Regions from separate parts of the Homo sapiens genome. Here all the other regions are linked to region 1. The links come from fine-mapping of genetic effects on gene expression. A gene starts in region 1. Each other region holds a variant in brackets. All regions are shown on one strand. Distances are from middle to middle. Region 1 holds the start of SKAP1 (src kinase associated phosphoprotein 1). Region 2 overlaps SKAP1 (src kinase associated phosphoprotein 1). Region 3 overlaps SNX11 (sorting nexin 11). Region 4 overlaps SKAP1 (src kinase associated phosphoprotein 1). Region 5 overlaps SKAP1 (src kinase associated phosphoprotein 1).

Region 1 (5,000 bases):
AAGCTCCTTATAATTTGGTTTCAGACTCCTCCATATATTTTAAAGACCTGAGCACCAACAGAGATTGTTAAGATACAGCAAGCTTGATACAGAAGTATGCGACATGCAATTAATCTCCATTCATACCCCGCTCTACTTGTCAGCAAACAAAGGTTCTGCTTTAGAAGGAGATCTGAAGACTTCAATTAAAAACAGTCAGCTAACAAGAAAATAATCTAAGCTAAAGGAAGGTGGCAGGTGCAGAAATGAGTTGTTTACCAAAGTGTCAGTTTTGAACAATGAAGAACTGCACATCAAAAATGCTGAAGGAATGGATTTCATTGCAAGCCTCTGAAAATAAAAAGGAATTTTCTACCAAGCCTAGACACAAAACTGAAGTATAGTTTAATAAGCTTATAAAATAGGTTTCCTCTCATCAAATGACAGATACCAATAAAAAGAATCAGTTTATATATTTCAATGCAAGGGCAGAGTTAAACTTTTTGCCACAGTCCCTTCTTTCCTAGAAACCAAAGACAATTACAGCCTTCCTTCACAAGCCTAATATTAAACCAACAACAGAGGGAAAGGCTGGATTGTTTCTTCTTAGACACCCAGATAATTCTCTTTTACCCTGCAAATAGTTTTCTACCCCCAAAATTTAGATTTATTCTGATCGTAAGTAAAACGGATTTTGGAAACCTCACCTCAAAAGAAATATCTAGCTGACAGCTTTTACATAGAAGCAATCCAGAATGGAAATAGTGCTACAGACAGAGACCAAAAGGACTTGCCAAATATTTGATTAGGAGGCATTTATACCGAGATAACAAGGTAATGGAGATATAAAACCAATTAAATTGAGAGAAACTGAAAAAAAATACTGCTTGCCAAAAATATGACCTGCCCAAAGCAGGCCGTCTGTTAAATATGTGTCAACTATGTCAACTTAGATGCCAAAAGGCTTAATTCTGAATAGTTTCCTCCTGGGAGCCTTATGCGACTGCAGATTCCAGGCCTCTGTCCTCCCTGGAAGGTTAGTTACAGGAAAGCAAGTAAAAGTGACTTCCACCACGAAACCCAGCAGATGAAACTGCCCGTTAGCAACGTCTCTTTGTGACATCTCTTTGGAGTGTTGGCAGTGTGTGTTGAGTGTTGACGGGGATGGCCGGAACTCTTTAAACCACCGCTTAGACACTGTAGTTGGAAGGTGAACACACCACAATGGGAGTTGGAAGGTGAACACACCACAATGGGGGCACTTCTAGAAAAGGAGGAAATCCCATACTGAGAATGAGCCTGCCTTGGGGTGGGTGAGACCCCTAGACGTCTGCAGGGTGATAAAGGGAGGGCTGGGGTTTTCGCACTGACAAAAACTCACGTCAACCACCTGGCCTTGGCCCATGGGGATCCCATGAGCCCCTCGCAGCCCCCTGGAGAGCCTCGGGGACCTCTAAGCAGGAAGGTTTGGGGTCTTCTGTGAGAGGTGAGGAAGTCGTGGCTGGGGAAGGAGGGGGACGGGAAACCCTACAGATGTAGGGCAGTCCTTTGGAGAAAGGGACAGGTCGGAGACCAGGCAAGGTGGCATGGGGGACCAAGAACCTGGCCTGAGGACTTTAGAAGCCGGGGAGGTGAAGTGGAGGCGTGGAGGTGCCTCAAGGCAAAAGAAGATGTGGGACTCCAGGGAGTGAAAGGGGCCCTGAGGTGAGAGGATGGAAAGCTGGCTCTAGGGAGTTGAGGGCTCTAGAAGCCTTAAGGTTCTAGAAGGAGGTGAGTGACGAAGCCGTAAAGAAAGCCTGGCCGTGGGAGGCCTGGTGTCCCCTTTCGGCCTTCGGCTCAGCACTGGAGGGGGCCTGCGCCAGGGCGTTACCTTCCAGGAGCCAACGGATCTCCTCAGGGAGGGCGGCGGCCTGCATTTGGCTGGGCGGGAGAGAGGCGGGACGGGGCGCGGGCCCTGGTCGGGAGGCGGACGGGCTGGAAGGCGACCCGGCTGCACCGCGAGGCACCTGTACCTCAGCCGCGGTCGCCGCCCGCCCAGCCCGGCCGCGGGGCGGGGCCGTGGGTCCCCGGGCGCGTCAGGAAGTGGCGCGGGCGGCAGGCGGGGACCGGAACGGGGCGCGGGGCGTGGGTGCACGTGGCGCTCACGCCGGAGCCCCACGGTAGAAGGATTGGGGGTGCCGGAAGCACCGCACCGTGCGAGGCCAAAGGTGCGCCCCTCCAGCACCCACCAAAACAAAAGACTTCACAAGGCTCAAAGGACCCACGGCTTTGGACACTCCATCCTAAGCACCGAACAGTTGACCTCACGGTGGCAGATTTGAAAGACCACGGGGTGCCTGAAGTAGGGTGCAGGGAGGCAGAATCCAAGGAAGAGATCCCCGTCAAGCATAGCACCCCTCAATTGCCGGTCCAGTTCACATCTCCATCCCCAGAAAAGAGGGCAAAACTTCGCTCTTTGGGAAGCCACAATGTTGAAAGGAAATGATTAATTCCCAATAAGCAATATAAGGACACCAACATTTGGGAGAATCGCGGCAGCGTGGCAGCAAGGGACACAGGAAACCAAACTGTGCTGTTCTCCCTCAGGATGGAAAGGCCCTGAGGAAAGGAAGGGGTAACACAGGGAGAAAGCTGAGGGAGAGGAGAACAGAGCCCTTTCCCTCCAGGAGCTGCGGAAGGGAGGAAAGTGAAGGACAAAATCACACGGTCTCATTCAAGGGACAGTTGGTGTCAGTGTCCTGGTTGTGACATGGTACTGTAATAGTGCCAGATGTTACCCTTGGGGGAAACTGGGTAAAGGTAGACAGAGTTCCTCTATTATTTCTGAAACTCTCTGTGAATCTATAATTCTCAAAATAAAGAGGTTTTTTAAGTACAATAGGTCAACTGCCATGAAAAAAGTATAAAGTGCTATGGTTGATAAAAGAAGGGAGCTGAATACCAGAAAAGGAGGGAAGAGGCCAGGCATTGTGGCTCACACCTGTAATCACAGCACTTTGGGAGGCTGAAGCAGGAGGATCACTTGAGCCCAGGAATCTGAGGTTACAGCCAACTATGATCACCCCAGTGTACCCCAGCCTGGGCAACAGAGCAAGACCCTGTCTCTTAAAAAAGAAAGAAAATAAAAAGAAGTGCCAGTGTGCATGTGAGTGTTTAAAGGTGCATGTGGTGTTTGAGATGGGCTCTGAAAAACACACCAGACTTTGAAGGGGCAGAGGACTTTCCAGGTGGAAGGACCAGAGTAAAGAAAGATGGAAGAGCCCTCACCAGCTTGAGGAATAGTTAGTAGCCCTCTTTTACTGGATGTTGTAGAAAGACTATGGTTGTCAAGATAAACTGCAGCTCTACTGTGAAGGGACTTGAAAGTCAGAATAGGAATGTTGAACTTAATTGAGAGGGCACTGGGGAGCCATTGACAATTTTTGAGATTGGGAATGACCTAACCAGAGCTCCGGGGTGGTATGTGGCCTCACACATCTCCACCTCTGCCTTTTTCCTTCTTTGTAAAAAATGGCATTTCTATTCTCAGACTCAACCTACAGAATATGTAGAAAAGATTAGGAGTGGTGGGAAAAGACACAGGGGGAAGTGGGTAAAATGGTTTTTACAACAGCCATAAGGGGAATAATGATGGACTCAATCTAGCAGACGGGGCAAGAGCAGTAAGAAGAAACCATCGAGAAGGATGAGTGTGATAAAAGTGCCTGCCTCCTTGTACTGTTTCCCATCCAGAGATACAGCCTCAAAGATGAGGGTGTGATCCTTTAAGGAGTACAGTGCATCCTGCCATCTGAAAAGCAGTGGTGCATTGGTTTCAGTGTCACATGACCCACCTACAAGCTGCAGTAAATTGGGGTGAGGGGACAGAGGCTGGCATGAGCCTCTCTGGGGTATCTGGCTCCTGCTCATCCTCCTTCCTGCCCTGAGAAAGTATAGTAATGGGTGGCTGGGCACAGTGGCTCACGCCTATAATCCCAGCACTTTGGGAGGCCAAGGCAGGCGGATCACGAGGTCAGGAGTTTGAGGTCAGCCTGACCAATATAGTGAAACCCCGTCTCTACTAATAATACAAAAATTAGCTGGGCATGGTGGTGCACGCCTGTAATCCCAGCTACTCGGGTGGCTGAGGCAGGAGAATCACATGAACCCGGGGGGCGGAGGTTGCAGTGAGCCGAGATCAGGCCATTGCACTCTAGCCTGGGTGACAGGGCAAGACTCCATCTCAAAAAAAAGAAAGAAAGAAAGAAAGAAAGTATAGCAATGGGCAGACTACCCCTTTCAGGCTTGGGATCAAGTACCAGGTACCCCCATGGCATTTTTACCAACTTCACCACTTCACCTATAAAATTGTAGCTGCTCTAGAATCATTTTGAAGTACTTATGAGGCATACTAAAAAGCAAGGAAAGATACATGGGAACTGTCTGTGCTATCATCTCAATTTTTTTTTGGTAAATCTAAACTGTTACACAAAAAATACAGCAAGGGCAGCAAAGTCTCCCCATATGTCAACCTAAACTTTGCCTTGCTTTCCTTCTTGGCAACAGAAGAAAATTTGATAACCTCCCCCTCTTCTTCAAGGATATGGTGTCACATACTAATATAAGCTACCAGCTAATGAATTGTTTGATAAAGAGCAGTAAACCCAGGTAATTGCACTTCTTTGCAGGCTTCACTGCCTGTCATAGCTTACTTACACCAAAAACTCACAGTGTACGTATTCTATATGCATCCTTCCTTACAAGAATCTCTGGGTTTTAGAGAGACAGGGGTAGAGGGAGGTGCACAGTCGGGTAGTATGTAGTGAGTGACTGGCAGATTCCAATACGGTATTGTCATGTTGCATCAAGGTTCCTCATTGCAGACAGAAATCTGCCTCCACACATGAACGCAGCCCTTCCTTAATCATCTGAGGACCCTGTTTCAGCAGTCAGCCCCACTCCTAATGACATTCTGTTAAATGGACAAATTCCTTTGAAGCCTTGTCCTTTTTTGAAATCCAATTTCGCAGGAAGCCAAATCT
Region 2 (5,132 bases), 240 kb before region 1:
CATCTCTGTGAACATAAATTTTTTTAAGTTCATAGAAGAAGGGCTATGCAAGCTGAACTTAGCAATAACTGTCAAATCCTGATTTCTTAAAAGTCTGAGAAAGAGGCTGGGCCCAGTGGCTCATGCCTGTAATCCCAGCACTTTGTGGGGCTGAGGCAGGCAAATCACGAGGTCAGGAGTTTGAGACCAGCCTGGCCAACATGGTGAAACCTCATCTCTACTAAAGATACAAAAAATTAGCCGGGCATGGTGGCACACACCTGTAATCCCAGCTACTCGGGAGGATGAGGCACAAGAATCTCTTGAATGCGGGAGGCGGAGGTTGCAGTGAGCCGAGATCGTGCCATTTCACTCCAGCATGGGCGACAGGATGAGACTTCGTCTCAAAACAAAACAAACAAAAAAAAGTATGCGAAAGAATCTAAGAACTGTAAAAGGCTTCACAAATAATACCCTGAAACTTACATCAGCCTTTAATTGTATGCTGCTAACATTCTTGGCTTTCAATTAGCCTTGTTAGGTACAAATTTATTGAGAAGTCAAGATCCTAATCCATCTTCCTCCACTGGGGTTTATACTTACTTCACAGAAGGGAGGGACAAAGGATGGAGACAAAGAAGGAATTTACTTCTCAAAAAATAAAATGAAAGAAGAATGAAAAAAAAAGCCTCTTTTAAGGACACACTCCACATTTCTTAATTAGGCAAAATGAAGGTAATTGGGCTAGCGGTATTTTAACATTTATTCTTTTTAGTCCCAGAACTCAAATCTCTTTTGGATTGTCTTAAATAATTTATGAAGCAAACCAAATACAAAACAAAGTAAGGCATAACTACATATGAATCAACTGGGCCACCTATAGAGTATCTTGAGAGTTATGGTTGAAATAACTTTTTTTCAAACAATTGTTTTTTGAACATTTCCTACAATAACATTTATTCAATGGTGGCTATGAGCTGGCACTTTGCTCAGTGCTTTTCCTACTTTTTGTTTTAAAATAACATCTACGACAATTTAAAATGCAATCAAAATTACATTTTGCTTTAAAGCTGTTTCAAGCTTAGTTATAAAAAGGTAGATCAGAAGAGCCTCTTTTTCTGTTTTTAAGTGTGTCTATGTGCCTGATTTTTTATCCAATTGGTCCTTATTGTTAACCTCCTTGTTCATGGACTACTTTTATTTGTGTGTTTCACAGTTAGCAAACTATGTGGTTGCCATAAATCCTTTTAATCAATCTCAGGGTGCACGCATGAGATGAACAGCAGCAAAGGAAAGTTCATTTTTCTAGGGTTCTTTCATTTCTCCTACCCCTCTGAAAACACCCTCCAAGGAAACAGTAGCAGATTCTACTGAGGGTGAGGCATTGAGTGGGGTGAGGACCAGTTACAGAAGAGAAGGCTCTCTGAAGTGCTGTCAAAAAATTGCTCCTGGGGAGGCCAGGTGTGGTGGCACAAACCTGTAGTCCCAGCTACTTGGAGGCTGAGGTAGGAGGATCTCTTGAGTCCAGGAGTTCAAGGCTGCAGTGAGCTGTGATTGAACCACTTCACAACAGCCTGGGGACAGAGCGAGACTCTGCCTCTTAAAAAAAAAAATTGCTCCTGGAGGCCTAAAAATTAAATGAAAGACATAGGGAGATGAGGAAAACACGATCCCATAAGCTGGGAGTTTCCATCTCTTCTTTCCACAGGTTTTTTTTTTCTTTTCTTTTTAAAGGTCTTGTTAAACTTAGAGACACAGCTCCTTGTCAAAGATGCCAAGAGTCTGAATCATAAAAGACATGTTAAACGTTCTATTAGAATTCAAACCTCCTTTTTTTAATGCAAATTTAAATGCCATTTTATGGAACATCTATAATTATGAAAATGGGAAGACATTGCCTCGTGTGCAGGGAGAGTCTGTGAGTATGAATATTACATTAATGTGCCCACACCAGCTCACTGATCCTGCTGGCAGGAGCATAAAAAATGCCTGAGTGAAACTTTTATTTAGATGTTAAGACTCCAGGCCCCAGCGGGGTGACAGAGACAGCCCCTGTGAGTTGCCATCAGAGAGAGAGCTTGAATTGAATTACCCAGGGGGGAGGAAGTAGTGATGAGCACTGCTTCGCTTATTTAATTTCATTTACTTTCAGTACATTATCAGCATGAGGTTTTTCTCTCCCCACCAACTGAAACCCAAGAATGCCACCACTAAGGAAACAAAGACATAATACAGCAGAGATGTAACTCTAAGTCACTAATTCTAGGAGACAAGGGATAGCACCATCACCACCTTCTCTCCCCAAGAGTCAAACTCAGTTTGCTAAAATTGGGTACCAAAGGAGCTGCTGAATTTTTTCTCTTGGTCATTCACTAACAAGATTCTGAAAAGGAATAGAGCTGGAAACAGCTTTTTATATGGTGTGTTTTTGTGTATAGTCAGTAAGATGTGTTATGTTGCTTTCTTTCTTTCTTTTTTTTGAGACAGAGTCTCACTCTTGTCGCCCAGGCTGGAGTGTAATGGTGTGATCTCAGCTCACTGCAACCTCCACCTCCCGGGTTCAAGCGATTCTCCTGCTCCAGCTTCCCAAGTAGCTGGGATTACAGGCATGCACCACCATGCCTGAATAGTTTTTTGTATTTTTAGTAGAGACGGGGTTTCTCCATGTTGGTCAGGCTGGTCTTGAACTCCTGACCCCAGGGGATCCAGCCGCCTCGGCCTCCCAAAGTGCTGGGATTACAGGCATGAGCCACCGCACCCGGTCTATGTTGCTTTCTTATTCATTAGACAGAATCTGTATTGAGGAATTCTCTTGCCTGGTTCCCCTTATGGGCAGTGGGAAAAAATGGGATTATAGGCTCAGTTTAGAATGTCTACGGAAAAAAAATTAGGAAATGAGGTCAGATCAGTCTCTAGTCTACTAACTGTCTTCTGTGTACAAGGTACTGTGTGGTGAGTTCAATAACAGAGTTGTTCTCAATGTAGTTGGCTCTGAGCTCAATCTCATTAGCTCCATGATCTATCTGACAAATCCAAATAACCAAGGTGGGAATCCACAGTGGCATGCAAGGTACCTCCTCTTTCAGTGTCAGCGCAGGGTCCTACTGATCAAGAACTAGTGATCCTGAGGATGAACAGTGTTAGCCATGCCATGGGGTGATGAGGCAGGAATCTTGTATGCCTGGATCCACACCTACTGGTAAAC[G/A]AACAGATCTGCAGAGAACTACTTAATGCATAATAGAAAGTATGTAAAATATGCTTTAAAGGACGGTTATAAAAATAGGAAGAAGTTGCAAACAATTGTATAAGTTGCTATTTTAAGGCAAACAATTTATATTTAAGTATACAATTAAAAAAAGAAGCTTTTTATTCATTACCTGAGAAAAGATATCACCACCGTCATGAAAAAATAAAAATGATTTTGATTTATTGAGAATAAATGGCCCTCTTGGCTAAGTCTAAAGGTGTATTACATTATATCAGCACAAAACAGAATTACATTAGTGTCATAATCTCTCCCTACCACTACACTTAACTAAACCTCTCAGAACAGCCCGTATAAAGAAAAGATTCACTTAGCTGAAGGATATGGGGCCACAAAGATAAGATCAACAGAGAAGTATGTTACCCAGAAGTGATGGCCACCCAACTTTCATGGCAGATGAAGATAAAAGAAATTCTCAGATATCTTTCTCTTCATCTAGTTTCCTTTAAACCCTTGTATCCCACCCACATCAAAAAAAGCAATAAAAAACGACAGAATAGGATTCCATCTCTCAATGCTAAACATGACTCTTTAGTCAGCTATGCACAGCAACAACAATGGGGACCCTTTGGAGTGTGATACATTTCCATAAAGCAGTCAATAAAAAAGACACGAGAGCTTATGTGAGTCACGGCCTATTTAACCAGCTGCGTTCTAGCCCACTGAGAAAAGAGAATTGGAGAAATCAGTTGGCAACACCAGAGCACAAGGCTAATAGCACAGGAGGCCACACAATTTCCACGCAAAAAGGCTGCAGCCCCTGCAGAACAAACCAGGTGCCCACTAACTTTCATTATAGGCAGCTGGCTTGGTCTCTTGCTAAATCATCCTGAAAGGAAAATAAATAGTTTTTTAAAAAACATCTTTTGTTCAAATCGTCCCCCTGTTAAGTTATGGACTTCTCCCATCCTCCCTCTTCCTTTTAATTCAAGTTCTTTTCAACTGTTTAAAAGAGGGACCTAACCAACTTGAGCCTAGAGACTAATAGCTAACAGGGGTGAATTTCAGACAGGGTGAAGTTTAGCAGGATCCTTCATTAAAGTACTCATGTAAAAAACCTGGGGATTGGGTGTATGAGATTGGAGAAAATTTAACATCTGAAGGCTGGGAATGGTCAAATTCCACCTGCAATTCCAATGCAGTCACAGATGGCTGGTGTGTGTGCATCTGCAGACATAAACACAAACACACGCTTTAAAATGCCTCAAATGTACCAAGGTGAGGAGGGTATTGCAGATAGGTTGGGGAGGGGGTAGTTTTCTCTTGTCTGGTGATTGTGGATTTCAAATCTGTTCATGAACCTCTCTTTTGTGCATTTGATTTCTGTGGCCTTCTTTAATATGTTCATTACTGCTTTTCCTTAGCTTCTTACTTTTCTGGGTTACTTTTTTGCCTTCTTCTCAATTTTCAGGAACCAGTCAATAAATGATAGTTTGTAGTGTCTGGCAGGAAGTGTCATCTTCCGATGCTAACAAGGAAGTTGGTTTCAATGACTATTCCTTGATTAGTCCCTTGAACAGGCATATATAATTCTTTAACTTCCGTGGTTCCATTTGATATCCACCTGAGTTTACACTTATACCACACATTTTTCTTGCATTGTGCTTCACTTATAAAGGAATTTAGCTTAACATATGAAAGGTGAAAAATTCTAAAACATTAGTAATAGATTTAGCATCTAAAATTTCAAAGATATAGAAAGCACTCAAACAGATGGCTTTAAACTAACTGAATGGAACTGTTCATGGAGAAATAAATTGGACAACAGATGAAAGGAAGGGAATGAACACAACGTACTTAATCAAGTTCTTCAACAAGCTGTGATGTAAGAAGCTAGGAAACAGAACATGAGCAACAGGAGCTAGACTAAAGGACCCCAGAAAATGGT
Region 3 (5,132 bases), 310 kb before region 1:
ATGCCTCTTCCATGGGAACAAATACTGTGCAGATGTTTGTAAGTTAAACATAAGACACAGGGGCTGTTGCTTTTGAACAGAACCCTATATTACTCTCCTGGGATCTGAGTTTCTGCAGGTCATTTGTATGTAGGACCAGGAGTATCTCCTCAGGTGACCAGTTTTGGGGACCCGTATGTGGCAAATTCTAAGCTGCCATATTGAACATCATCCCACTGGGAGTGGTTATGTTGTATCCCCATCTTGGCTGGCTTCAGTTTTTGCTGTAGCCCTAGAGCACTTTGTTTGTGGGAGGCTGGCCTCTTGCCTACCTCCTTGCATGGACAGGGGGATGAATATTTACTTTCCCACCTCCTTGCTTTTTCTTTCACTGATACCACTGAATGGAACTGGTGCTGTGACTCCTGCTGCTGGGGATTTATGTCCCGAGACCTTAGCCTGGCTGAGTGGAGCCTGAGACCTGCACAACAGCTCATGGTCATGCATGAGAGAGAAGTGGCTGGCCACAGCCAGAGGGAACAGTAACAGCCCAGGGGCCTTTATTTTGGGAAAGGCTGTCCCGGGCTGTTACTGTCTCTTCTGGTTATAAAGCAGACATGTGGCCATCTTTTCCGCAGGGTTAGAGTGGGCTCCTTTCTTTTTGGAATCCTTTTCTTCTCCTTTGGTAGCAGCTCCCTGCCTCCAGGGCTTCCGCCACCAGCGTCTCTGCTGTGTTGCGCAGTGCAGTGGGGTGCAAGGGCTTTGTTTCTGCCTGCCTGAAAGAGAGGGCTCTGGGGATGGAGATGAGAAACAACACGCTCTCCTTCAGACAATGAGGCATTCTGTCCTCCTGCTGCCATTCTTCATCTCCACTGAGAGCCAGAGCTGGTAGGAGCCGAGTGCCACAGGCATTCTGCATTGCTCTACTCTTAGGTTTGTGTGTGTGATCCTTCCCCTCCCTGTCGCCCACTCCTCCCTCCTCTGGCTATCCTACCCTGTCTGTGGGCTCTTTTACTACCAGCCTATGCTGTGGGACTGTCATGGCATTTAGTTCAGAGTGGAGGGGCTTTGGCCTGAAATAAAATGCAAGTATTTAAGATTGTTGTTGCAATTTGTGTCTAACAAGCTGTAGCAGAGAAGGAGGGAGTGAGCGCTGGCAGTATTTCCTTTCATAAATCATGAATTTATCAGTGTGGAAATAATGCTTCAGAACTGTGCTCTGTAGCCCTCCTGCATTGTGTGTGCAGCTCAAGTTCACCACTGGAGGAAGGATTGTCTTCCAAAGAGCTGGGATCCAACTCTTCTCACAGTTCTGGGCGTGAACCTTGTTAGGTATAATTTACCTGATGCTGCTTCCATCCTCGCAGTCTGTCTGAGGTGCCAGGTGCTGAAAGAGAAATAAAGTTTGTCAACAGGCAGATGCAAAGCCCTGGCTGGTATTCATCCCTCTTTCCTGCCCGCCTCCCCTGGGTCTCTCCTTTATATGATGCAGCAGAGCAAGGCGAGGATAGAAAACCTACAGAGGCAAATCCAAAATGTCAGAAGAAGTTCATTTAAAAGGGGAAAAAAACTCCATGTGCAACCCTCACAAAAACCCGACAGATGCTAAGCTAATGGCATCCGCTCTGCCGATTGGTGGGGATGGCTCATGAATATTAATGAGCCCAATGCTCCAAATGGTGCAGCTGTGAACCCAGCTGTGCCTGAAGCTCTCTGATCTCGAAACTTCCAGACAGGAGCTGGAGGTGGTCTGTGTCAATTCCCTACTCAGCCAAAAAAACAGCAAGCTGGGTTGGCCTTCTTCTGTTTGCTCCTTTTCTTCCTGGAGTTGGTGCTCAGCAGCTAGTTCTGCCAGCCGGCTAGGCTGCTGGGACAGCAGGAGCCATTCAAAGACATGGATGTGATTTTTCTGACTCCCAGCTTTTTTAATGATCCATTAGCAGCATGCATACAACAGCACCTCAGTTAATCTAAGGCCAGGCACCATCTCTTTTCAGTCTCTCTCTTAACTGAGTATAGGCCTTGGAAGGAGAAGTCCTAGGAAGGAAAGCACTTTTCTAATAATACAAGCCTAGGGTCATCCGAAAAATAGCGCACATGAGTTTTCCTCTCCATCCAGATAGTGCCATAGGCCCCTCTTCTGTTTTGCTCTGTCCCTGCGTGTGCCCAGGTCTAGCCACTGTGGCCAGATGACCTCTATGAAAGATGGAGGATTAGCTGTGGGGAGTGGCTCATTGAGCTGTTTTGTAGGATAAAAATATTTTGTTTAGAATTTAGTTTTGAGTCAAGTTCTGTCCTGATGTAGTCACCTTTCTTCTGTCAGATACCTCCATGGCCCACATCTAGTCATCCATTACCCAGGATGACTGATTCCAAGCTTGTGGAGGTTGTTTGGTGGGAGGAAATGTGTTTGTGTGTGAGGGGGGTGTTTTCTTACATTAAAATACTAAGTTTTATAAACATAATTTTATTGGCCCTTCTCAGTGCCTAGCAAGGAAGGTAGGTTAGGTATATGCTCCTTTTTTCGTTGAGGAAACTGAGCTCAATGTTTTTGTGTGTGTTTTTTTATTTGTTTGTTTGTTTGTTTTGAGATGGGCAGCCTTTGCTGCCCAGGCTGGAGTGCAGTGGTACAATCTCGGCTCACTGCAACCTCCACCTCCCGGGGTCAAGCAGTTCTCCTGCCTCAGCCTCTAGAGTAGCTGGGATTACAGGGGCCTGCTACCACACCCAGCTAATTTTTGTATTTTTATTTTTATTTTATTTATTATGATTATTTTTTGACATGGACTCTTGCTCTGTTGCCAGGCTGGAGTGCAGTGGCGCCATCTTGGCTCACTGCAACCTACACCTCCCGGGTTCAAGTGATTCTCCTGCCTCAGCCTCCCGAGTAGCTAGGACTACAGGCACGTGCCACCACGTCCAGCTAATTTTTGTATTTTTAGTAGAGACGGGGTTTCACCATGTTAGCCAGGATGGTCTTGATCTCTTGACCTCATGTTCCACCTGCCTCAGTCTCCCAAAGTGCTGGGATTATAGGCGTGAGCCACCACGTTTGGCAATTTTTGTATTTTTAGTAGAGACGGGGTTTCACCATGTTGGCCAGGCTGGTCTTGAACTCCTGACCTCAAGTGATCCGCCTGCCTCAGCCTCCCAAAGTGCTCGGATTACAGGCGTGAGCCACTGTGCCC[A/C]GCCAAGTGTGGTTTTTTAAAAAGCATGTTTTTAGATGATGGTGGAATATGTTCACATGAGAGATACTTTCCAAGCTCTGTGAGACAAGTCCCCTACCACTCCAAAAAAGAAAAAGTCTACCACTACATTCAAGGAAAAAAACAACAACCCTGCAGGGCTTTTCAGAATTGTTCTCAGAAATCAGAGCTCTTTCACAGTTCTTAGTTTTCTCATGCTAAGGCCTTACATCCATACTACCGAGTCCAAGGTACCTCCTATCCTCTCTGTTAGCTTTGCTTGGGAGGTGATAATGACTTTTTTTTTTTTTTTTTTTTGAGATGGAGTTTTGCTCTGTTGCCCAGGGTAGAGTGCAGTAGCATGATCTCGGCTCTCTGCAAACTTCACCTCCCGGGTTCAAGTGATTCTCCTGCCTCAGCCTCCTGAGTATCTGGGACTACAGGTGTCCACCACCACGCCTGGCTAATTTTTGTATTTTTATTAGAGATGGGATTTCACCATGTTGGCCAGGCTGGTCTCAAACTCCTGACCTCGGGTGATCTGCCCTCCTTGGCCTCCCAAAGTGCTGAGATTACAGGTGTTAGCCACTGAGTCTGGCCTTATTAGAGATACGACTTCTTAGGGGGGAAAAACACTTCTATTTTAGCCATGACTGGATTTGGAGTTGGAAAGCTGGAGACCTCAAATCTCAAGATATAATAAACAGACAACTTATGCTCAAAATGTTAACAAGAACTACACTTCCTAGGAGACAGAGTCCTCCTGACTGAATAAGCAGAGTGAATAATTTTACTTTTCTTTTGTTCAGGGGAGATCTGGTCTATTTTCACAAGCAAAGGAGAAGGAAAAAAAGCCAAGGGGTACTTTCATGGTTGCCAAAGGGTCACAGATAATAAACAGAGGTGACAAAGCTAGGGTGTGAGAATTAGGAGACTACTGGGAAGTCTCTAAGGTTTTTTTCCCCTGGAAGGGCAGGAACACAAGATGCTTCTGGAATCTCTGGATTATGGGAAGCCACCAGCCAAAATTTCTTTTCATGCATGGCTGCATGGCTGTCAAGTCTCTCCTTCCTGTCCTTCAGCCAAGCACATTTTCTTTGATACCGTCAGTTCAGAAAGGGCCAGCCTGTTCGAATCCTGTAAGTGCTCTAGCTCTGTGTGTCCCTTTCCCTGGTGGCTGTGTTGGTGTGGGAAGCCTAGCCCACCCCACCAGCAGCCTGACCCGGATCCTTCCCGCAGAAGGCCCAGAACAGTGAATGCCTGAGGCAGTTTGTTGGAGGCAATGCAGCCTGCCTGCTATAAGCTGTGAGACTTAGATATATTCTACCAATTAGGGCACATCTGTTCAAAACGCTGAAAGGCGGGCACTGTCTCTTTAAGAGGCATCCCACTCCTCTCCTTGAGTAATGAGGGCTGGGAGCACAAGGGAGTCAGATGCTGATTAAACAGTCCTACTGCCGAGCTCTGTTAGAAAATTACTGTAATTATGATCTGGTCCCAGCAGAGGGATGAGTTCCAATCCTGCTAATAACCCTTCCAGGTGCCTCAGATTCAGGGCCCATGGGAGGCAGCGTCGACAGGGCTCTGGCTGGCACCAGGACCAGTGATGGCCCTCCTGTCTGGCCTGTGCTGGCAGAGACAACAATGACACTGGACCTCACTTCCTATTTTGGCCTCCTGAGAAGGCAGTGGTTTTTGGTTGCGTTTTTGTTTTATTTATTTTTTGGTTCTGGACAGAGCTCCTGGGAGTCATTTTGTATGAGAAAACTTTCCAGTAAATGAACACGGAGGACCAGGAAAATCACAGCCGAGAGATGGCAATCTGTCCTGAATCTCCCCACTTCTGCCTGGGGACTGTAGTCAACATACGAAAAGCATGTTGCCCGGCCCCAGTCCCACCAGTGCACTGAGGAGGGAACCAGAGCCGAACCCTTTCATCTGCAGCTGCCTTCTGCGTGGTGTTTCTTG
Region 4 (5,132 bases), 56 kb before region 1:
AAAAAAGCCAGGCATGGTGGTGCATGCATGCCTGTAGTCCCAGCTACTTGGGAGGCTGAAGTGGGAGGATCCCTTGAGCCTGTGAGGTTGAGGCAGCAGTGAGCCATGATCATACCACTGCACTCCAGCCTGGGTAACACAGCAAGACCCTGTCTCAAAAAAAAAAAGAAAAGAAAAAGAAAAAAAGAAAGGAAAAATAATTCTATTTCCCAATTATAAAAAAATGATTAACATTTATTAGCACTTACATGTTAGGCATTGTGCTAGATATACACATATACATATGCATATACATCATATATATTTTTTTGAGACAGAGTCTCACTCTGTCACCCAGGCTGGAGTGCAGTGCACAATCTCCATTCACTGCAACCTCTGCCTCCTGGGTTCACGCGATTCTCGTACCTCAGCCTCCTGAGTAGCTAGGATTACAAACGTGTGCCACCATACCCAGTTAATTTTTTATCTTTTAGTAGAGATGGGGTTTTCCCATGTTGGCAAGGTTGGTCTTGAGCTCCTTGCCTCAAGTGATTTACCCACCTCAGCCTCCCAAAGTGCTGGGATTACAGGCATGAGCCACCACGTCTGGCCCTGTGCTAGGTATATGTTTTACATGTGTTATTTTATTTATTTATTCATTTTTGAGACGGAGTTTTGCTCTTGTTGCCCAGGCTGGAGTGTAATGGTGCAGTCTTGGCTCACCGCAACCTCCGCCTCCCAGGTTCAAGTGATTCTCCTGCCTCAGCCTCCCGAGTAGCTGGGATTACAGTCATGTGCCACCATGCCCGGCTAATTTTGTATTTTTAGTAGACAGGGGTTTCTCCATGTTGGTTAGGCTGGTCTCGAACTCCTGACCTCAGGTGATTTGCCTGCCTTGGCCTCCCAAAGTGCTGGGATTACAGGCGTGAGCCACCATGCCCGGCACATGTATTATTTTATTTAATCTTCATAAAAACCCTAGGAGGTCAGTATTTTTTTAAGACAAGGTTGCATTCTGTCACATAGGCTGGAATGCAGTGGTGCAATCATAGCTTATTGTAAACTTGAACTCCTGGGCTCAAGCAATCTTCCTGCCTCAGCCTCCGAAGTAGCTGGGACTATAGGTGTGCACCACCACACCTGGCTAATTTCCTTTATTTTTCATTTTAGTAGATACAAATTCTCACTATGTTGCCCAGACTGGTCTCGAACTTCTGGCCTCAAGTGATCCTCCTGCTTTGGCCTCCCCAAAGCACTGGGATTACAGGCATGAGCCACTATGCCCAGCCCAGGACTACTATTATCCTCATTTTACACATGAGGAAACTCAAACTCAGGAAGGTCAAACAACTTGGCCAAGATCACATAGCTACTAAGTGGCAGAACCAAGATTTGTATCCAGGTTGTATTAGTCCATTTTCACACTGCTATAAAGATACTACCTGAGACTGGGTAATTTATAAATAAAAGAGGTTTAACTGACTCACACTTCCACATGGCTGCGGAGGCCTCAGGAAACTTAAAACCATGGTGGAAGGTGAAAGGGAAGCAAGCACCTTCTTCACAGGGTGGCAGGAGAGAGAGAGAACATGAGAGAAGTGGGAAGCACTAGACACTTATCAAACAACCAGATCTTGTGAGAACCCACTCACTATCATGAGAGCAGCAAGGGGCAAATCTGCTCCCACGATCTAATCACCTCCCACCAGGTCCCTCCCTTGACATGTGGGGTTTATAATTCAAGATGAGATTTGGGTGGGGGGACAGAGCCAAACCATATCACAGGTCTACTTGGTTCCAGAGCCCAAGCTCTTAAATTCCATATTAACTGCTTTCCTATTGGCTGTAATATATAAAAAAAAATAAATCTGGTACTTAAGAGAAGATACAGTTGTTTTGTTAGATAGCCTATGGGCATGAATCAACCCTAATATGAATATTAGGGAGTGGTTAGACAGAGGTCTTTAACCTGAAGTCCATAGTTTAGGCTTCAGGGGATTTCCTAAACTCTCTAAAATTGTGGGTGAAATGTAACACTTGTTTTCTTTTCTCTTGGAGAAGAGTCTATAGACCTCATTAGTGTCAATAACTCACCCTTGCCCCACACCCACCAAAAATGATATGACCCACTGAATTAGGTGAATAGAGTTGTAATGGCATTATAAAACTAGCTACCCAGAAAGGCCAACATCTGTGATGTTATAACTCTAGAACATCTAGATGAATTTTTTTTTGCAACTGAAGTATTAAAAGTGTTATTTTACCTGTGACTTATGGAAATTTAAAACACATCATATACTCTCTGCCTTGGTAAACTCCTGCTGAACAAAATCAAATCTCTTCTTAATGACTTAAGGACATCCAAATTTGAACTTCTCTTTTTTGTTGTTTTTGAGACAGGGTCTTGCTCTGCTGCCCATGCTGGAGCGTAGTGACACAATCTCAGCTCACTGCAACTTCTGCCTCCCAGGCTCAAGCCATCGTTCCACCTTAGCTTCTTGAGTATCTGGGACTACAGGCACGCTCCACCATGCCTGGCTAATTTTT[GT/G]TTTTTTTTTTTTTGTACAGACAGGGTTTCACCATGTTGCCCAGACTGGTCTTGAACTCCTGGACTCAAGCAATCTGCCTGCTTGGCCTCCCAAAGTGCTGAGATTACAGATGTGAGCCATTGCATTCAGCCTGAACTTCCTTTTTGTACTAAAACAGCAATGCCTTCTGAATGCATAGGCTGTCTGCAATACTCAGTGTCCAAAGACTTCTATCTCTCTCTTGACCATCTCTGTTCTCTGATAATGGCTGTCTCCAAACAGACTGCAAAGGCTAACACTGAAGAGTTATCCTGCATTGAAAATGGAATCTTAGGATTCAGACGGACACCTAGTTGGGCATGGATTCCATGCAAGTTGATAAGGCTAGGAAAACCCCTTGCAACTGATCTTGAGCAGTCAGCCACATGGTAGAAGTTTATTTATGCCCAAGGAAATGGCTTTGCTGAGCAATGCTAAGAGTCTGTACACTAAATATTTCCTATAATTCTTTTTCTCACTTGGAAAGATTCACATTGCTTCCAAATTATCTTCTGAAAGTGTCCCATCTACTACCTTGCAGAAGGTATGGACTAGTGGCAAAGAGTAACATGGCCAGTGACACCCAACAACAGAAATGGGAAAACAGCACCATCTGGTGGAAGTCCCCAGTGGAGGCATCCAAGGCCTGGGACCCAGGGGTCCAGGTACCAGCCTTAGAAACAACTGGGCAGCAAAAGGAAGGTCTTTGGTGGAAGAGCTGGTGATCCTTCTAGTCCCAATTCCTTAATCTCACCAAAAGTACAAGACCTAATGCCTACCTACAAGGAGCTTACAATCTAGTCCAAAATATTAGCTCTTTGTATATAATGAGATGACAATCTAATATGATAAATACTACTGTAACAACAGACAATAGGCATATAACTCAATTATGTAATAGAAGAACATATCACAAGAAGGTCCCGGGTTCTTTTGGGGGATGTAATATTTCTGTGGTCTTGAGTCTATATTTACAAGCCCATCTAGGTAGATAATACAATGTTCACCTACCTACTAAATACAATGATCACAATCAAACTTATATTAAATAATAAACAACATTATCTGAGATTGACAGTATAACTCATCACCTGCTCCCCCACCACAATTTTTAAGTCCATTCCTGGACAGCAAAAAAGAAATTAAATTTTGAAAAGAAATTAAAGTACTATTTAACACTAGAGTCTCCTATAACACTTTTGCTACATGGAATCATTGCTATGGTCAATGAAACACCCACCATGAGTATAAACATTAAGAAACCTAAGAACTCTTTTTGATCAGTGAGTGATTAAGCTTTCTGATTGCAACACTGGAAACCCACATTCTAACATTCCTTCCCCTACTTTCTAGCATGAGGACTGTTTTTTCACCAGCAAATCTCACTAGTATGTCTACACAATCCCCATACTTCCTCCATGTAATAGGCAACAAACTATAATTCGATGAACTAATAAAGGAAAAATGCTAGCCAAATACATTATGGCAAAATAAAAACACTAAACAACAGGTCAGAGTTGGAGGGTTTTTTTCTGTAAATAAAAAGGAGTCATTGAAAGGTCTGTTTCTTTGTTTGTTTGTTTGTCTTTAAGGATAAAGAATGATGTCCACATCAAATCCAGCAGAGATGTGTAGCATGGATGGGAGGGAGAAAAGTGGGGAGATAGTTTAGGAAGCTACTTGAGAGCAAGAGAAAAGACAAGACATTAGATAACAGACTTAGAGACTGGCTAGGAGGAGAGCATCAAGAGGAAAGTCAGAGACGCCTTTCGGTTCCAAACTTGTGTATTGGAGAAAACAAGGTACTGCTTATGTACAAATAACTCCAGCTGATTACTGTATTCTAAACTGTTGTCTCTTTGGCCCTTGCTCTGTCATTTTTGTCACTGTTGACGCTTAAAAACCTAATTTTGTTTTATTTTTTGCTTGCTTCAGGTTAACAGCTACTCTTCGACCACTGAGACGCCATTATCTGATTAGTGAATAACTGGTAGCTGAGTGAATGTGTGACTGTGGCCCATATACTCACTGAATTTTACAGCTGGAAGGACACTTAAAATCATTTACTCTAGCCTTCACTTTACGGATGAGAACAATGAAGCATGGAGAGGTTATCTGATCGCACCATAGGAGTTTAAAAGTCCACACTGTGGGGCCACCACAGTTTATCTTGTACAGAATCAGGGGCAAGTTCAAAAATGTGATATTCATTTAAAAATGAGACAATTTCTACAAAAACATTTAAAACCTCCTTGGAAAAACTCGGCTATCATGCCTTTGATATTTTCCTTGTTATGAACATGGACATATTATTCACCTGAAGGCAAATGTTATGTAAAAAATTTTTAAGCTGGATTAGTTATTAGAGTTCATCTAGGCAAGGTGGATATCTCAGCATTAACATGCCAACACAGTCTCTGTATCTCAAGTTACGAATACTGCATTTGTTCTCTCAGTAGTAGAGATGAATAAATTTCCACTATTTGCCAGACACTCTGTGAGGGACTAAGAGCACAGAAAACCCAACTGTGGACCAGTTTGGCCGAAATAATCAAATTGTGTAGAAGTGATGTAATTGGCCCAGAA
Region 5 (5,132 bases), 280 kb before region 1:
TTGTGTAAAGTACAGTGAAAAATAACAATTTGAATGTTTCGATTATCTTTCCCAGTCCGTTCCATTTTCATTATTTATTTCCTATAAATCGGGACCTTGCTGAACATAATTCTGCAGACAAGGAGGTGGATGGGACAGCCAATGTGAACAAGGAGATAGATGGTGGGTGCGTATAAGATAGATGCTATGCGCTTATGAAAAAGAGCAGTATGTCTGCATGTGAACATCCACAAAGTAGAGCGAGCAAGCGTGTACACGACAACGGGTATTTATAGGTGGAAAAAGGTGCAAGGAAGATTATGTGGGAACAGGCACAGAGAGTCTGAAACGGTTTGCTCTTTTCCCTACCCTCCTGGAATCCACGTCCAAGTTCTGCCTAAGATGTCCCACACTTGCTGTGGCTCCTGTGAACCTCGCAAGCCTTTCCATGACAACAGACGGGGATTTCACAGCCAGAAGACTTAGGAGGTCAACAGTTGAAAAGCAAGATTTAGAGAGATCTTTAAACAATCACACTAACCTCCCTCCCCTTCCAAAGACAGAAGGAGGAAAACATTTAAAGACGCAGCAGGAAAAAAAAAAAAAAAAAGAGCCTTTCTAAAAATGCAAGTTTAAAATGTTCATGCTTTTGTATCAGCCTAGTTGCACCTTAGAATCTGCCATTTCATAAATAAAATACCGATGGCATAGAGTATAATTTGGTGACAGCTACCCCAGGACATATCTAGATGCACTTCTGTTATTTTAATTAAATACTGCATTATGGTTTGTGACAACTACATAGCTATAGCGTAAATGAATTCAGAATTAAAGTGTTACTTAGGCATCCAGTAATTTTTGTTTCATTCCTTAGTTTTACAAAGCAAATAGCTATAAAATCAAGATGTTTGTTCATTTACAGATGGAGCAGGATTGTCGTCGCTGTTTTTTTCCTCCTTAATCCTCATCCACAAAAAGAAGACACAGTTCAGAGTCTGGCTCCCAACACTCTTAGCTTATGAGCCACATCACAAAGAAAAACACATCCTCTTGACTATAATGTGAAATGCTGAATATTAATTGCTGGTATTATGCCTATCTTTCTAGCTGGGTTCTGTCTTTTAACAATTATTCGGATGGGCTACAGCCTTGCACTGCCAGGAGATTCTTCTCCTTTGTTTAATAGTTAGAAACCAATTTTATTAAAAAACGGTAAAGTTCACAATGCTCCATGTAAGTTCTTAGTATTTGGAACTCTCCCCAAATACAGAATATTATCAGGAACAGAGAAACTGCAGACTCTCTTTGCTAAATATGATGAACATTTCTGCATTTAAAAGAAAAAAATATTTTTCATTTTAGCAATATTAATGTTTCCTTAATGAAACTGGAGAGGGTGTTACAATTTGATATACTTGGTTAGTTTCATTGTCACTTCACTAGCAAATCATGAGAAAGGTTCAGAATATTCTCATCTATCAGGTACAGATTTTCACTCAAAATTAATATGTAGAGTAAAAGGATTTTTGTTCAAATCTGAGGATTTAACTGTATCTTTAACGTTTCATATGTCAAGATGAAAGTTTTTAAATAACTAGTTTTCTGAAACCATTTCTATTATTTCTAATTTGAGAATCAATATGATCTTTTTATTAGCCTTAAATACCATACATCTGGGAATGTCTGCAAATTTAAGCTTTTCTGTGTTCTAATCAATTACCTTCAGTCTTGCATAACTAATCCTATAATCTCCATAGAAGTTACTGCCCTGTATGTTAGCAATGAGGTTATACTTTGTTTCAATATTTTGCTAGTTTGGTTGGAGAGCTGAATCACGCAATACCAAGAAATGGTGGCAGAAGAGGTTTGGGGAGGCTGAGTTTCTTTTGAGAAAATAATTATACTGAAACAAAGCTTTTGTGACTCCTTTTAAATAGGGCATCTCACCAAAATGTCATCCAGCCTCTTTGGCAGATTAGTGGGGAGTTTATTACTAAATCTCTGTCTAATAAATGTGCAGTTGACTCTGGAGGAGCTGCTTGTTATAATACTGGCGGTGGGAAATGGAGGGAATGTCACAGTTAAAGACACAAATTTTCCCCATAATATATTCAAATGGAAACCTCTGAATCCAATACTACATGGGCATATCTAATAAATTCACAATATTTCAGTTTCCGCAGCCTTCACCGGTTAGTTTTAAAGATTTATGTGGTAAAAAATTACTCAGTGATGAATATGGTTTATTCTGTGCAGTATTGGAGGTATAAGGAATTAAACTACCATCTTTAACAGTGAATTTATTATTACCTCTGTCAAAAGACGAAGACGTTAACAGCATTTGTTATAAATTCACTGCAAAATAAATGGCTGGAATTTTTTACACTGGAGTTTGTAAAGCATCGGGCAATTCTGAGCATTAACCTAACCCGGCCGTGGCTTATATGGTTCTAGGTAAACGTTTCTGTCTGGGCTTCGTAGTTAATTATCTGGTCTGGAATTTTCCCCAACTGAAAACTGTGTGCACATG[GAC/G]ACACACACACACACACACACACATACATACACAGAGAGAGAGAAAAGTGAAAGGTCTTGTCCAGGACAACTGTTTAGGAATAAATAGATTAGACTATTTATAGATAGATAGAATAAAATAAAATGCCAATTTTATTCTCTTTTTAAAAAATGGGTTTTAGAATAAATGGTCAGGGTTTGCAGGATGGGTTGATGAGCAACTGGGCCTCTTGTTAGCAGGTTTACATGCATGCATATGCACACACACATAAACACCCTCTCCCTTTTGTCCTCTCTTGGAATGGGTGTCCCCTCATTTATAAAAATTACCTGGAAGGAATGAGGCTGCCAGGGTTTGTTCTAGACGATTGGTTCCTGTCTGGGGGAAAGGAATGGCCTCTACTGAATTTGACCGGTATATGACCGTTGCCTTCCAGCTGACCCCAAATCCCATTCCCATCCTCCTAACTCCGTTGCCTCCCATAGGGGTTATTAATGAGAGAAAACACCATCATCATCATCTTCGTCATCACAGCACAGTGTTGACCTGCTTGTTAACATGAAATGGGGTGGTGGGGACAGCTTCTGCTTCTCTTGCATACCATCATAAATAAGAAAAGATACTTTGCCATAGGATCCCCTCACCCACCCCTTTGATTAGGTCAGAGGTGCATAATAGCTCTTTGACAGGCATTGATCAGTTTCATCACACTGTTTGGGCAGCCTGTGCCCCAGGCCTATATTCTCCCCACTTACTACCCCTAAATTACCTCCCAGATAACCCCCCACCCATCCCCCACTCAGCCAACCAGAGGGTATGGTGCCTGAGGAAGTCCTAAATGGACACTAGATGTCACCAAACACCTCCTTTCCCTCAGAGCCCTGAAATTAAAAAAAAAAAAAAAAAGAAAAAAAAATCCTTCATTTAAGGCAATTGAAGGAATTAACTTATCTGTTTTTATGAGGGTTGTTGTCACATTCAACTAAGCACACTTAAAAGAGGAAGTATTGCTGCATTAAGATAATTTTTACAACATACAAATCTCTTTTGGAAAGAACGGGGTCAAGGGAGGGGAAAGGTCTCCATTCTTTTAAGTAGCCCATTGAGGAAGTAGGTGGAGAAAACCGGGTTAAAACTCCCATTATAATTGACATAGTGTTGTGTTAACATAGTCCAGGTGTGCTGGCGCAGGCCTGCCGCATTCAGATGACTAGACTGGCTGTGGAGCCAGGATCTCATCTGAGTTTAAGTAGCTGCAGTCCAGGGTGACAAAGTCCATTCTTCTCCACATAAGACCCATGACCATCTGACAGCATCACGTGTTCCACGCTAAACTTGACTTTGTCTGTATGGCTCCCTGTTTCCACATCAATTCCATCAGCAAGGAAGATGACCCAGACCCTGGTGTGTCTGGGCCATGAGAATACCTTCCCACCCCAGCTAAGCCACCGTGTAAGTATAAATCTTATGCGTACCCAACTTGTTGCTCCAAGGCTGCTTTCCATGGAAATAAGGCACTGGACAATTCCTTGGAAGAGCCTCAGACCAATTTATGAGGCACACAACCCAAGCCCAAGAGATGTACACTGGCTCAGTTTACCTTAAATGGAAGATCTCACCCAGTGGCCTCTTCTCCTTCCTAGTCAATTGAAAAAGAGCTTCTCTTTCCCTCTTTAATTTGTCCTTATCTTCTGAACAGCTCATGTTACCACCATAAATAACTTATGGAACAGGATGCTTTTAAAAAAAATGGGCGTTTAAGTCTTATCTTGGCTGGGCGTGGTGGCTCACACCTGTAATCCCAGCACTTTGGGAGGCCAAGGCAGGCAGATCACTCGAGGCCAGGAGTTCAAGACCAGCCTGGCCAACATGGTGAAACCCCATCTCTACTAAAAATACAAAAAATTAGCCAGGTGTGGTGGCTTGAGCCTGTAATCCCAGCTACTAGGGAGGTTGAGGCAGGAGAACCGCTCGAACTCAGGAGGCAGAGGTTGCAGTGAGCCAAGATTGTGCCACTGTACTCCAGTCTCGCAGTCTGGGTGACAGAGCAAGACTCTGTCTCAAAAAAAAAAAAAAGTTATCTTGAATAGTGGAACAAGCATGATGATGATGATGATGATGATGATTTTTATTTTTTCTTGAGATGGAGTCTCGCTCTGTCATCCAGACTGGAGTGCAATGGCATGATCTTGGCTCACTGCAACCACTGCCTCCCGGGTTCAAGCGAGTCTCCTGCCTCAGCTTCCCTAGTAGCTGGGACTACAGGCACGCGCCACCATGCCTGGCTAATTTTTGTATTTTTAGTAGAGATGGGGTTTTGCCATGTTGGCCAGGCTGGTCTCGAACTCCTGACCTCAGGCAATCCACCTGCCTCGGCCTCCCAAAGTGCTGGGTGAGCCACCACGCCCTGCCAACAAGCATTATTATTATTTGGAAAGAATGTTCCCTAGTGAGAGACACTGGAGCCAAGAAGACAGGGTCACTTTTCTGAAAGCTAGGACTTGTGACTTGTCTTATCCAAATAGAGGCTTCTTACCTCTTTTTCTCCCACTTATAACAAGTGACCATAGGCCAAGCACAGTGGCTCACACCTGTAATTCCAGCACTTTGGAAGGCCGAGGCAGATGGATCACCTGAGGCC

What was found.
Region 2: its variant is fine-mapped to the expression of SKAP1 in whole blood (TOPMed, PIP above 0.99).
Region 3: its variant is fine-mapped to the expression of SKAP1 in whole blood (INTERVAL, PIP 0.95).
Region 4: its variant is fine-mapped to the expression of SKAP1 in whole blood (INTERVAL, PIP above 0.99).
Region 5: its variant is fine-mapped to the expression of SKAP1 in whole blood (INTERVAL, PIP above 0.99).

Annotation. Positions count from the first base shown.
Region 1 is chr17:48,428,226-48,433,225 of GRCh38, forward strand. SKAP1 (src kinase associated phosphoprotein 1) reads right to left here and starts at 1,989. Exons shown (of 13, transcript NM_003726.4): 1 at 1,850-1,989. The coding sequence starts at 1,895. RefSeq lists a silencer at 1,903-2,162.
Region 2 is chr17:48,190,600-48,195,731 of GRCh38, forward strand. The region is part of intron 4 of SKAP1 (src kinase associated phosphoprotein 1); the gene reads right to left. Among named protein-coding and RNA genes, the nearest start is that of MIR1203, 37 kb to the left of the region's middle. RefSeq lists an enhancer at 1,570-2,187. The variant G/A (reference allele first, on the strand shown) is at 3,185.
Region 3 is chr17:48,121,670-48,126,801 of GRCh38, forward strand. It overlaps SNX11 (sorting nexin 11), which reads left to right. Exons shown (of 7, transcript NM_013323.3): 7 at 1-1,932. Among named protein-coding and RNA genes, the nearest start is that of SNX11, 16 kb to the left of the region's middle. The variant A/C (reference allele first, on the strand shown) is at 3,168.
Region 4 is chr17:48,371,681-48,376,812 of GRCh38, forward strand. All of the region lies in intron 2 of SKAP1 (src kinase associated phosphoprotein 1), which reads right to left. Among named protein-coding and RNA genes, the nearest start is that of SKAP1, 56 kb to the right of the region's middle. The variant GT/G (reference allele first, on the strand shown) is at 2,527.
Region 5 is chr17:48,150,515-48,155,646 of GRCh38, forward strand. The region is part of intron 11 of SKAP1 (src kinase associated phosphoprotein 1); the gene reads right to left. It overlaps LOC124904018 (a long non-coding RNA gene), which reads left to right. Exons shown (of 2, transcript XR_007065827.1): 2 at 56-2,362. Among named protein-coding and RNA genes, the nearest start is that of MIR1203, 3.4 kb to the right of the region's middle. The variant GAC/G (reference allele first, on the strand shown) is at 2,510.